2 linked regions of the Homo sapiens genome follow. The protein of the gene in region 1 purifies or fractionates together with the protein of each later gene. This does not show direct contact. Each region holds a gene or a part of one and is shown in the gene's direction. Other genes may lie near its edges. The genes, in order: PCDHGA3 and KCNA4.

Region 1 (3,932 bases):
TCTTTCTCATACGTGGGAACCATACTGTATTTTAATCTTTAAAATAATATATATCCTCAATATAGTTTTGCTTAAAGAAAAGATACAAAAGATTCATATCATACAATTGCCCAGAACCAACTTCTTTATACATCTCTCTTCTCAAGGTTTCTACTCACAATAGCTGCTAGAAATGTTCCCAATCCCTCACCCAATCCCAGTGCCCCTCTGATCAATTTTCTTTTCCCATTCCTCTTCCTATATTGGCTTTTAGTATGTTGGTTATGTATTTAATAACAGAGAATAATAAGCACACTAATGTTCTATGTAACTGGCATCATTTTTTATTTTTATTTGAAAATTATCATGTACCAATTGAGCCTTTTATTGAATGATACCATATTTCTCAAAGTGCTGTGATTCTTTCCGTTGCATTTGATCAAGAAAAAATTTTCTGAGACAAGGTGTTGTTTTGGTTACTATTACATAATTGTCTATGAGTAAAATTGGAACTCACTGTGGAATAATATGTCATAATAGCTTTACTTGTAAGTGAATAATAAAGTATAAACAGGAAAATTAAAGCAAAGTTATTTTTAGTGTGTGTAGTAACTCCACAAGAATAAATGTCTTATGCATAGATATGTAATGCATCATGATTGAAACGACAAATATATTGTATTTATATTTCTGTGCTTGGAAACTTATGGGGAAAGAGATTCTGGAACATAAAAGCTTATTTCTACTAGTTTCAGTTGGTTTTGAAAAAACATCCTTACAGTCTAGATTTAAACAAAGGAAACTTCTTTCAGTACCCTGAAGGTCTGTGATTTCTCTCTCACACCTAGGCATTGTCATGCTGTTCTCTCCCACATCCAGGCCTTTTCACTGATCCACTCCTCTCATGTTTCCTGGGAAAGCGTTTGCTAACATTAAAGGCCCAATTGAAGGCCCCCCTAACCCCCTTGGCTTCTCCCATTATGGTAATTATCTCAGTACACTGCAATTCCCTGTTTGCTTTTATATCCTTATAATCTCTGTGAAGGAAGCTACTGTGTCTATATTGTTCACCTTAAATCCCCAAACATATTGTCTGATGCCTAATTATGTGTTTGTTTAATGAATATTAAATAACAACAAATATCGAAACTAAGTTATCAGGTCACCAAGAACAAACTTAAAGAAATATAATGTATAAATATGGCTGATTTCTGTGTGTTTCTTTTCTTTTTTTCCTTGTCTCAGCTCTTAGAGAGTTAAGAGTATAGAGAGGGAAAGGTCAAAGAGGAGGTGGATATCTTATCAAATAACCCTGATAAATGTAGTAAGTATAAGAATAAACACATTATCAAGGTTCAGTGGTGGAAGAACAAGTGGTGGTCATGTCTTTTAATAGTTGTGTTGGTCCTTACGGCCAGTTCTTTGTTACTGTGTGTTTCTTAAACTGAACAATTCAAAAAAGTTAACTCCACTATGTTTGAAGCAATATTGGTGGCATTAAGGTTAGTGCATGGATTCCCAAGAAAGATAACTTGAGGTGACACTGTTTAACATATATCGATTCAATTATGTTCAATCAACACTAGTCCTCTTATCTCTGACAAGAAGGATTTCAGATCTTGGATAATTCAAAAATAATAATGTGTCTGAGAGGATGCAGTAAACGGTTAGGCCTCTTAGTGTCGCTGTTGACCACTCAAGAAGGAGAACGCAGCTGGAGAACTAGTCCACCATTTCCTTGCTCCTAAAATGCAAAGAACCAGCAAATCAGACTCAGAAGATCCGGGGCGGCTGCCAACCTCACCTCTTAGTCAACCAGCTGTTTGACCTGTGAATTAGGCCCGTAAAAGACTTCGTTTCTTGAGAAAATAAGATTGGAGTCCGTCGTAGGAAACTGGAACCGAATTCAGAGAAAGCGATTCACCGAAAAGGAAATGACCAATTGCCTGAGTTTCCGAAATGGCAGAGGACTGGCCCTGCTGTGCGCGCTCCTGGGGACGCTGTGCGAAACAGGATCCGGTCAGATCCGCTACTCGGTGTCTGAGGAGCTAGATAAAGGTTCCTTCGTGGGCAACATCGCTAACGACCTGGGGCTAGAGCCCCGGGAGCTGGCGGAGCGCGGAGTCCGCATCGTCTCCAGAGGTAGGACGCAGCTTTTCTCTCTGAATCCGCAAAGCGGCAGCTTGGTCACCGCGGAGAGGATAGACCGGGAGGAGCTCTGCGCTCAGATCCCGCTGTGTCTGGTAAAAATTAACATTCTGGTTGAGGATAAATTGAAAATTTTTGAAGTAGAAATAGAAATTAAAGATATTAATGATAATGCTCCTAATTTCCCAACAGAGGAATTGGAAATAAAAATTGGTGAACTAACGGTTCCTGGAACCCGATTTCCAATTAAAACTGCTTTTGACCCAGATGTAGGCATTAACTCCCTGCAGAACTACAAGCTTAGCCCCAATGACTACTTCTCTCTGGCTGTGAATAGCGTCTCTGAGGGGGCCAAGTATCCAGAGCTGGTGCTGGAGCGGGCCCTGGACCGTGAGAAAAAAGAAATTCACCAGCTTGTCCTGGTTGCCTCTGATGGTGGCGACCCTGTCCACTCTGGCAACTTGCACATCCAAGTGATAGTCCTGGATGCAAATGACAACCCACCAATGTTTACTCAGCCTGAGTACCGTGTGAGTGTTTGGGAGAACGTGCCTGTGGGTACCCGGCTGCTCACGGTGAATGCCACTGACCCTGACGAGGGATTCAATGCTCAAGTGTCTTATATTCTAGATAAAATGCCTGGGAAAATCGCTGAGATTTTCCATCTTAACTCAGTGAGTGGAGAAGTATCAATATTAAAAAGTCTAGATTATGAGGATGCCATGTTCTATGAAATTAAAATTGAAGCACAGGATGGACCAGGTCTTCTTTCAAGAGCCAAGATTCTAGTCACGGTTCTGGATGTGAATGACAATGCTCCAGAAATTACAATCACGTCTCTCACAAGCTCAGTCCCAGAAGAGGGCACCGTTGGAAGAGAAATTGCTCTTATCGACGTGCATGACCGAGATTCTGGGCAGAATGGGCAGGTTGAAGTTTTTGTCCTGGGAAATCTGCCATTTAAGTTAGAAAAATCAATAGATCAATATTACCGCTTAGTGACGGCCACATCCCTGGACCGCGAACAAATATCAGAATATAACATTAGTCTGAGAGCCTCAGATGGGGGAAGCCCGCCACTGTCCACAGAAACTCACATCACCCTGCATGTGATTGACATCAATGACAACCCACCCACCTTCCCTCATTTATCCTACTCCGCCTACATTCCAGAAAACAACCCCAGAGGAGCCTCCATCTTCTCAGTGACAGCCCAGGACCCAGATAGCAACAACAACGCCCGCATCACTTATGCATTGACCGAGGACACTCTCCAGGGGGCGCCCCTGTCCTCCTTCGTCTCTATCAACTCCAACACTGGCGTCCTATACGCGCTGAGATCCTTCGACTACGAGCAATTTAGAGACTTAAAGCTACTGGTGACAGCCAGCGACAGCGGGAACCCTCCACTCAGCAGCAACGTGTCGCTGAACCTGTTCGTGCTGGACCAGAACGACAACGCGCCCGAGATCCTGTACCCCGCCCTCCCCACAGACGGTTCCACTGGCGTGGAGCTGGCGCCTCGCTCCGCAGAGCCCGGCTACCTGGTGACCAAGGTGGTGGCGGTGGACAGAGACTCGGGCCAGAACGCCTGGCTGTCCTACCGCCTGCTCAAGGCCAGCGAGCCGGGACTCTTCTCGGTGGGTCTGCACACGGGCGAGGTGCGCACGGCGCGAGCCCTGCTGGACAGAGACGCGCTCAAGCAGAGCCTCGTGGTGGCCGTCCAGGACCACGGCCAGCCCCCTCTCTCCGCCACTGTCACGCTCACCGTGGCCGTGGCCGACAGGATCCCCGACATCCTGGCC
Region 2 (2,733 bases), on another chromosome or scaffold:
ACTGAGTGCTGGCGGGCATGGTGGGTTGTTGAATGATACTTCAGCACCCCATCTGGAGAACTCAGGGCACACAATATTCAATGACCCCTTCTTCATCGTGGAAACAGTCTGTATTGTATGGTTTTCCTTTGAGTTTGTGGTTCGCTGCTTTGCTTGTCCCAGCCAAGCACTCTTCTTCAAAAACATCATGAACATCATTGACATTGTCTCCATTTTGCCTTACTTCATCACACTGGGCACTGACCTGGCCCAGCAACAGGGGGGTGGCAATGGTCAGCAGCAGCAGGCCATGTCCTTTGCCATCCTCAGAATCATTCGTCTGGTCCGAGTATTCCGGATCTTCAAACTCTCCAGGCACTCCAAAGGCCTGCAGATCCTGGGCCACACCCTCAGAGCCAGCATGCGGGAACTGGGCCTTCTGATCTTCTTCCTCTTCATTGGGGTCATCCTCTTTTCTAGTGCTGTGTATTTTGCAGAGGCGGATGAACCTACTACCCATTTCCAAAGCATCCCAGATGCATTTTGGTGGGCTGTGGTGACCATGACAACTGTGGGCTATGGGGACATGAAGCCCATCACTGTAGGGGGCAAGATTGTCGGGTCCCTGTGTGCCATTGCGGGTGTCTTAACCATTGCTTTGCCAGTGCCAGTGATTGTCTCTAACTTTAACTATTTCTACCACAGAGAGACTGAAAATGAGGAACAGACACAGCTAACGCAGAATGCAGTCAGTTGTCCATACCTCCCCTCTAATTTGCTCAAGAAATTTCGGAGCTCTACTTCTTCTTCCCTGGGGGACAAGTCAGAGTATCTAGAGATGGAAGAAGGAGTTAAGGAATCTCTGTGTGCAAAGGAGGAGAAGTGTCAGGGAAAGGGGGATGACAGTGAGACAGATAAAAACAACTGTTCTAATGCAAAGGCTGTGGAGACTGATGTGTGAATCTTTTTCCACCTGCCACTGCTCCCCCCTCAGCATCTCCAAATATATTTATGCATAGAGAGTGCAGTTATGAAAATGAAATATGCAAATGATCCAATGCATACAGTAGTACACTATTTAATGGTTATACATGGCATAATTGTTACTAAACTTGTATTACATATCAAATAAATGATACATCTTGGAGAAGAGGGAGGAATAGGAGCAAATCTATCTTTATATTTTTATTAGAATGCAAGAATTTTGCACATTAACTGGAAAAGATGTTAACAGTAAAGATGGAGAGAGAGAGTGTGTGCGTGTGTGTGTATATGTGTGTGTGTGTGAAGTAAATTGTCAATGTTAGTAATTGTGCAGTGAAGGGAAAAGTTGGCATTTTGAAGTATTTACTATGTAAGAACTAATGAATCTGAGCAGTCATTTATCAGTGCTTTAACAGCATATCGTATGTCTTTGGATTCTGTAGTTGTTTTTTAAAAATTGTAAGAAATACTGTGTAGAGAAAAAAGAAAGTAAATTATTTAATAGACTATAGGTCACAATTTTATCTTGGATTTAATTAAAATTTATTTTTAACTGGAAATTAACTTTTAAAAAGGCTGCAAGGGCCTTTAGAAATTGATTATATTTTGTTATTAATTTTGGGAAGACTTAACAGCAAATGTCTAACATTATAGAATAAGTGAAATTGGAGAATATGTAATAAGTTTTGTTTGCAGGTAACAGGACTGGATTTTTTTTTCTTTGCACTACTTTATATGCTGGAGATTGAGAGAGACTTCAAACTGTGAATGTTTACTAATGTAACAGTTCAATGACAATCATTGGAAGAATGATTTCTTTAGTCTTATTTTATTGTTTTCTTTTCATTGTGTGAGACTAATGATCATGCAGATAACATCACAGGATTCTCTCCTCTTTTAAAATCTAAATAACTGATTGACAAAGGAATTATGAAGTAAAATTTAGCAACTGAATCTTTTGAAATTGGTCTGTTAGAATGATGCTTCTGAAATCATACTATTTTATATATTCTTCTGCCTTTTAACTCCAGAATAATTTAACCAAAGTTAATGCATGCACTGAAAGAATTCTTGAAGAAGATGCCAAGCAGCTACAGTGATTATGGCTTAAAATTTTTCTATTAAATGTGAAACATAAACGCTAGATTTATTAAGTTTATTTTTTTGTGCAGTTATATAAGAACAGAATTTGGGGATTAACCTCAGATTTTAACATTATATTTGCTAAAATGGACATAAGGAAGAATTGTGTCAAACATTTGGTTTCAACATCACCATCATTATTATCTTTATTAAAGGAATTTATGACACATATAACTGCATTTAAGTCATGACAAAGCATTCTAGAATGTGAGATAACAACTAGCGATCAGCCTTGCACTATGAAATCATGAGGTATAGGTTAGAAAACTCAGAATGCATAAGAGGCCTTATTCTACAATGTTTATTTAACTTCTGTTCTTTATAAAATGATTGTCTTGAGCTCTGGTTGGGGGCGGGGGAACAAAACAAAACAAACAACACTGCATACACTATTTCGGCACATAGTGAACTCTGGTAACTGTGAGCTACAAACAAACAAACTGACCTAGAATAGCCTTTCTCAAGCTTTTTAAAATCCAGGCCATCATTTCATAATTACATAAATCCTACCTCTCCTTTAATGGTATTTGAAATTCAAAGTAAATTCAACATTAGGCTTAAAAGTAAAACTGCACCCCCTCTCCACCCTTTCCCCACCATTTGTAGAGAAATACTTTTCTAGAACAC

What was found.
Region 2: the proteins of PCDHGA3 (region 1) and KCNA4 purify together in Homo sapiens (affinity purification with mass spectrometry; one large-scale study listed by BioGRID and IntAct). This does not show direct contact.

Annotation. Positions count from the first base shown.
Region 1 is NC_000005.10:141,342,121-141,346,052, forward strand, and holds the start of PCDHGA3 (protocadherin gamma-A3 isoform 1 precursor), read left to right. Parts: upstream 1-1,708; 5' UTR 1,709-1,913; coding exon 1,914-3,932. UniProt on the Homo sapiens protein: Potential calcium-dependent cell-adhesion protein. May be involved in the establishment and maintenance of specific neuronal connections in the brain.
Region 2 is NC_000011.10:30,008,924-30,011,656, reverse strand, and holds the end of KCNA4 (potassium voltage-gated channel subfamily A member 4), read left to right. Parts: coding exon 1-940; 3' UTR 941-1,927; downstream 1,928-2,733. UniProt on the Homo sapiens protein: Voltage-gated potassium channel that mediates transmembrane potassium transport in excitable membranes. Forms tetrameric potassium-selective channels through which potassium ions pass in accordance with their electrochemical gradient.